2 separate regions of the Homo sapiens genome follow, and region 2 is linked to region 1. The links come from fine-mapping of genetic effects on plasma protein levels. Region 1 holds a variant in brackets. A gene starts in the other region. All regions are shown on their reverse strands.

Region 1 (2,917 bases):
TGCTCAATAAATATTTCATGAGCACCTACTATGTTCCAAGCATGCTGGGGCTTCAGCAGTGAACAAAAGAGACCAGGCCTTGCAGTTGTATGTCTTGAGAGAAGAATCAAAAGGAGTTCTCATGGCTAGGACAAACCATTGAGCAAAGAAAGATGGAACATTTGACACCAGACTCATTTTATTCACACCATGGTTTTACCATATACCTGTTCTAATATATTAGGTAAAATAATTACCCATTCTAGTCTGTTTTCTTATCTGCAAAACGGGGATTATCCCATATTCATTATGCCAATGCAACATTTTTATTGAAAGAATTAGAGGTAATATATAGAGTGCATGATCCGCAAAATGCACACAATGGAGGCGTAATTTTTAATGACTTTTTGATTTTAATTTTATAACATCGGTGCCTCACACCACAGTAGGCACATACTGGGCACTCAATAGATTGGTAAGCATAACTGAACAGCATCATACTTTCCTTAGTGACCTTCATTTAATAAATCAACAGATATGTATTTTGTAGCCATTTTTTCAGGCAAGGACCTCGGTTCGGATTCTTACCATTCCAGAAACAGGTCAAACCGGTGTTGCTGAGACCATTTACGTGGGTCAGACAGTCCTCAAAAGGAATCCATAGCAAGATGTTTGTCACATTGTATAATGTTTTCAATCCTCTGAATACCACTTTGTGAAGGCCTTGGAGCCTAAGAAAATGCTGAGCGAGTTATACAAGATGGACATTTAACCATTAAGTTAAATGGACTAAGTTCTATATAAAATATAGATGCACTTGCTCTAACTGACCTAAATAACAACAGCCTTGAAAGAAGCTGAAAATTTTAAATTTCTAAAAAATATTGCAGGGAATTGTGGTTAAATTCTAAATCCTTATGCATTTCTAAGGATTTTCTATAAATATGAAATAGTAGTGGGAAAAACGACATTTGAACTTACCCAGAATGAAGAATGCCTTTAGTTTTTGGATAGAATCCAGAATTGGAAGAATTTTACATTTTTTCTTCTTATTATTGTAAAGACTGTTAAAATAAACTATGACTAGAGATTAACTAAGGGCCAGAGCAGAAAAGAAGGAAGGAAGAAGGAATTAAATGGTATTTATAAGATTTTGCTTTTCTATATGAGCTGGATGGATTGTTTGTTTAGGGAAGAAGCAGAAAGTAAAAGGAAAATGACAGATTGTATGGGAAATTTTTTCTGTTTGAGTTTGTCATATCGTTGATATTGAACTGCTGATTTCAATTAGGGATTATAAGCGTATGAAAACGTGTATATGCTGGTATTTAGAGCATTTCAAAAATGCCTCAGTGAATCACTAGATCATGTGACAGGATTTGGGTTCTCTAGAATTGCTATTTGATGACTATCTACGTATGTTTTAGTTTAGCCATTATATATGTTTTAGTTTAGCCACTGAGATGCAATCCTTAGATGGGATATGGTAGCTTTCTTGGAATAAAAACCACAGCATATAACTTAGTTAGGACAGGATGAACTCAAACGTGTTTAGATGAGTGGGGGAAAATGATAAATGATGTATTATGATTTTTAAATCCTCATCTGGCCAACTTTGTACTTTATTTCAAACAGCTGTGGACCATTTGGAAGCCATTTTGTAACTCAACTAAATACTAATATTTACTGTATGAATCACATA[C/G]CTTTAAAATATTTGTCTTTCCCTAAGAGTGAGAGACCATTTCTTTCCTAAACTGAACTTTGACATAAATCAGACCCATCCTTGTCAGTTAGAAGGTCTGTGCACTTGCTCATGGCAGTGGTTGTTCATTGCCAAATGCCGTGCTGGGACATCTTTGCTCTCTGCAAGCAGAGGACTTTCTTTATCTATCATTAGAGGCTTTGAAATGTTTTTGAGAGATTTTTTTTTGATAATTTTTAAACATCTTTTTTTAAAGGATTTCCCCTACTTCACCTGCATGTGGAATTTTTATATATCATTATCATTCATTCATAGTTGAGGCCTTTCTTCAGACATTTCCATTAAATATAGAATTCAAGCAACATCCTTGTCCAATTTTAGAAGGTAACATCAGAAAGACATACAGAGTGTACAAAATGGGAGCCATCAGGTAGTTCTCAAAGATTGAGGTGCTAATTACTGTTGAGGAGACTACCTCAGATTTTAATTCTGGTCCAGGCTACTCCCCTTTCAACACAATTACAGGAATCTACCTTCTGAAATGACCCCCCTTTGAATTCTCCCTCTGAACATCTGCAGCTATTCAGGAAAGAGTGTATCCATCAATCCATGTAATGTGACGTGATGAGTTTACTCTTTTCTAAAGTGGTATTTAGGCACTTATGCGATGATCCCACATAGCCAATCATCAATAGCCAATAGGGAGCCATTTGTAGAAAACAGGGGACTCTGCATGCTAGTCAGGTATCCCGTAACAACATCGATTCTGGAGGGAAACCAGGGGCATCTATGCAGCCTGAAACATGTGGAGTTAGCCACCTTTCTTCCCTGGTTGTTAAGCAACAAATTTCAGGAAAGTTAACACTTTGTGTGATGTTAACTGCCAGGAGCTCAACAAAGGGATAGCATCGTAGTCACACTGTTGCTGTTTCAGTAGAAACCAATGAAAGAAAAATGATAGATGCCGTAGTCAGACCATCTGGCAATACTGTCTTATCTGCCACAACTTAGAAAATGCCACTGTGGGCAATGCTATGAACCAAAGTGCATTCTATTTGCCTTTGAAAGCAAAACGCATCCTAGTTAGCTGAATGGGAGTCACTTGGAGTAGCATATTAATAAAAGCATGATAGAAATGCTTAGGGTATACAAAAATGCATTACCATAAAAGACGTATTGACTAAATGTTTGCTTCAAAGTCCTGAATAGGATTTCTATCTGTATGGGAGAAAAACC
Region 2 (2,873 bases), not on the chromosome of region 1:
CACACAGTCTGGCTAGATCTCATCCTAAGATCTCAAGTCAGTCTGACGTCTGTCTCCTGGGGCAGAACTTTGGATTGGGGAATGTGGGAGTGGGGAGGAGCCAGGTGAGCAGGGATTTTTCTACCCACATGACAGCCTTCTGGGGACACCTGCTGGTGGTGATCACATAGCTCTTCAGCCTCTGCAAGGAGATCTTCTTACTGCTAAATGTGAAGCAGCAAGTAGATGGGACGTTGAGTGCATCTAGAAATAGTTACAAAGAAAAAGACTTTGAGGATGTGTTAGGCTTTTCTCAGCTTGAATACAGCAGGGAGCATCTGTATGGGATGCAAAGCAAAGAGGAAGAAATAGATCTTACTCACCCCCAAGCCCAGCACTCCCACCCTAGACCCTGAGGTGAGGTGGGACCTGTGACATGTGCCTCAGGATCTCAAAGGCTCAGCTGCATGGTGGAGACATGTCACAGCCATCTAGGGGAGGCCACGGGCAAGGCCAGTGGGAAAGGTCCTGGGTGTGGTCCCAGATCTGCAGAGTTTGGGACGATCAGATGAGGTCAAAGAAAAGGCCCTAAATCTGGAGTCAGAAGCTTAGGTTTCATTCTTGCTCTGCAATAACCTGGAGGTGGATGGCTAGGGTCCCTTCTGCCTCCAACATGGGCTTCAGCTTTCTATCTTTAAAATTAGATGTTAAAGTGAACCTCTGAGGAGCCTTACTATTCTGGTGGGCTTAGAAGTGGGGCACTTGGCTGGGCCTGGTGGCTCACGCCTGTAATCCCAGCACTTTGGGAGGCCGAGACGGGAGGATCACTTGAGGTCAAGAGTTTGAGACCAGCCTGGCCAACATAGTGAAACCCCTTCTCTACTAAAAATACAAAAATTAGCTGCACGTGATGGCGGGTGCCTGTAATCACAGCTACTCAGAAGGCTGAGGCAAGAGAATCGCTTGAACCTGGGAGGTGAAGGTTGCAATGAGCCAAGATCGCACCCCTGCACTTCAGCCTGGGCAACATAATGAGACTCAATCTAAAAAAAAAGTGGAGGAGCACTCGGGCTTAGGTCTTCCTTGAATAGAGAAACAGAGGGAAAGAGAGGGAGAGTCGAAGGGAGGTGACTTACCTGGCTGAGCAAGTCCCTGGGGGTTGAAAGCTGCTGTCATGAGCAGCAGGCACAGAAGCACTGCAGAGACTTTCATGTTGAAGGTTAAGAGTTGGAGATTTCACAATGTTTCTTTGCCTCTCTGCTCCTCTGGCTGTTCCGCCGGCCTTTTATAGGGAGTGGAGAAGCTTGGAACTCTCAGAGGACCTTGGCCTGAGCAGGGCGTTGACCAAGTCATGATGAAGGGGGATCCTGAATCTGCTGAGCTGGAGCTGGGCACCAAAGACTTTTCTAGGAAATGCAAGAGGGAAGCTGAGGGCTGAAACAGCATGGCATGGCTTCCTTCTGGCTGTTCAGGCCACAAGGAGCCAGAGAGGAGAAAGGGACACAGACGCGCCCCAGCCATTCACCATGGGAAGCCATAAAGGAGCTGTTTTCTTCTTACTTTCTCCAACAGGAAAGAGAAAAACAATGAAAATTAACTCCTGTAGAGAAAGAGTGCTGTGCTAAGGACTCTGTTCACGTTATATATTTAGTTTGAGGAGGTACATACCATTATTATCATGCCCATTTCATAGAAGAGGAAACGGATGCAGAGAGATTAAATAACTTGACCAAAATCTTATGGGAAATGAGAGGGAAAGCTAGAAGAGAAAGCTGGTCTGCTTATATTTTATCACCAAGGCAGTTTCAACTTTTGTTTAGCAGCAGAAGTCTTTTTCCAAGTCAACTTTTATGTGGAAGTCTAATATCTGAAACAGATTAAGTCAGATTTCTGATGACAGGGGCTCCTTACATTACATATTGTGTCCCCTTCTGCCCCTCAGGCCCAGAGGGACATGGTTCAAACACCTCTGATTGATGCAGGCCCCGTGTTTCCAGGAAGGACCATTGGGTTTCTAGAGCTGTTGATGGGAGGGCTGGGGTGGCCCTCAGAGCAAAGAAGTGAGGTGTTTGGCCCATTCCTGGGCTCCTCCTGCGAGGGGCACATATCTGGGAGCTGGGAGGTGGGGAGGGAATGGCTTAAAATGGTTGAACATGTCCCTTTCCCACTCATCCCTAGCTCCAAGACTTGGCACAGTTTTTGTGCCTTCCTGGAATACTCATCCCTCTGCATTCCACTATAGCAAAATAAGCCCAGTGAAAGTAAAGGGAAGAAATAAAGAGCTAGGATTAGAGAAATAGGAAACAGTAAATATTAGAAAGGATAGATGAAGCCCAAAGCTGGTTCTGTAGCCTATAATTAAGCTAAAACTCTCCTGAACTGAAAATGAAAAAAAAAAGAAAAAAGGGGCTGAGGCGGGGGGATCACTTGAGGTCAAGAGTTCTAGAGCAGCCTGGACAACATGGTAAAACCCTGTCTTTACTAAAAAAAATACAAAAATTACCCAGGCATGGTGGCACATGCCTGTAATCCCAGCTACTTGGGAGGCTGAGGCAGGAGAATTGCTTGAACCTGGGAGGCCGAGGTTACAGTGAGCCAAGATTGCACCACTGCACCCCAGTCTGAGTGACAGAGTAGGACTCTGTCCCAGAAAAAAAAAAAAAGAAAAGAAAAAAGGAAAAAGGTACATATAACCAGTTGCAGAGCCTGCAGACACCAAAAAGAAAATGATAAGAACCTTATGCCAAAAATTTAGTTTAGAGGAAATGGATGAATTTCTTAAAAATCTAACTGACCAGGGTGCACAAATAAATAAAAAATAGAAAGTCATTCTAAAGCTATTAAAGAAATGGAATCAGGAATTGAAAATCTTCCCACAAAACATTCTCTGGGCT

Direction of the effects. Alleles are on the strand shown, and positions count from the first base shown. The strength of an association depends on the size of the effect and on how common the allele is.
For the plasma level of the protein whose gene starts at base 1,238 in region 2, C is the low allele of the variant in region 1 and G is the other (weak association).

What was found. A credible set is the group of variants that fine-mapping cannot tell apart. PIP is the posterior inclusion probability: the model's chance that the variant is causal. The UK Biobank Pharma Proteomics Project read protein levels with antibody pairs (Olink). The fine-mapping took linkage between variants from a reference panel, not from the people measured, so its PIPs are less certain.
Region 2: CCL13 starts here. The variant in region 1 is the best candidate, but not a certain one, in a credible set for the plasma level of the CCL13 protein (UK Biobank, PIP 0.61).

What each region holds. Positions count from the first base shown.
Region 1 is chr8:58,828,845-58,831,761 of GRCh38, reverse strand. The region is part of intron 5 of TOX (thymocyte selection associated high mobility group box); the gene reads left to right. Among named protein-coding and RNA genes, the nearest start is that of NSMAF, 170 kb to the right of the region's middle. The variant C/G (reference allele first, on the strand shown) is at 1,682.
Region 2 is chr17:34,354,845-34,357,717 of GRCh38, reverse strand. CCL13 (C-C motif chemokine ligand 13) reads right to left here and starts at 1,238. Exons shown (of 3, transcript NM_005408.3): 1 at 1,116-1,238; 2 at 129-243. The coding sequence starts at 1,191.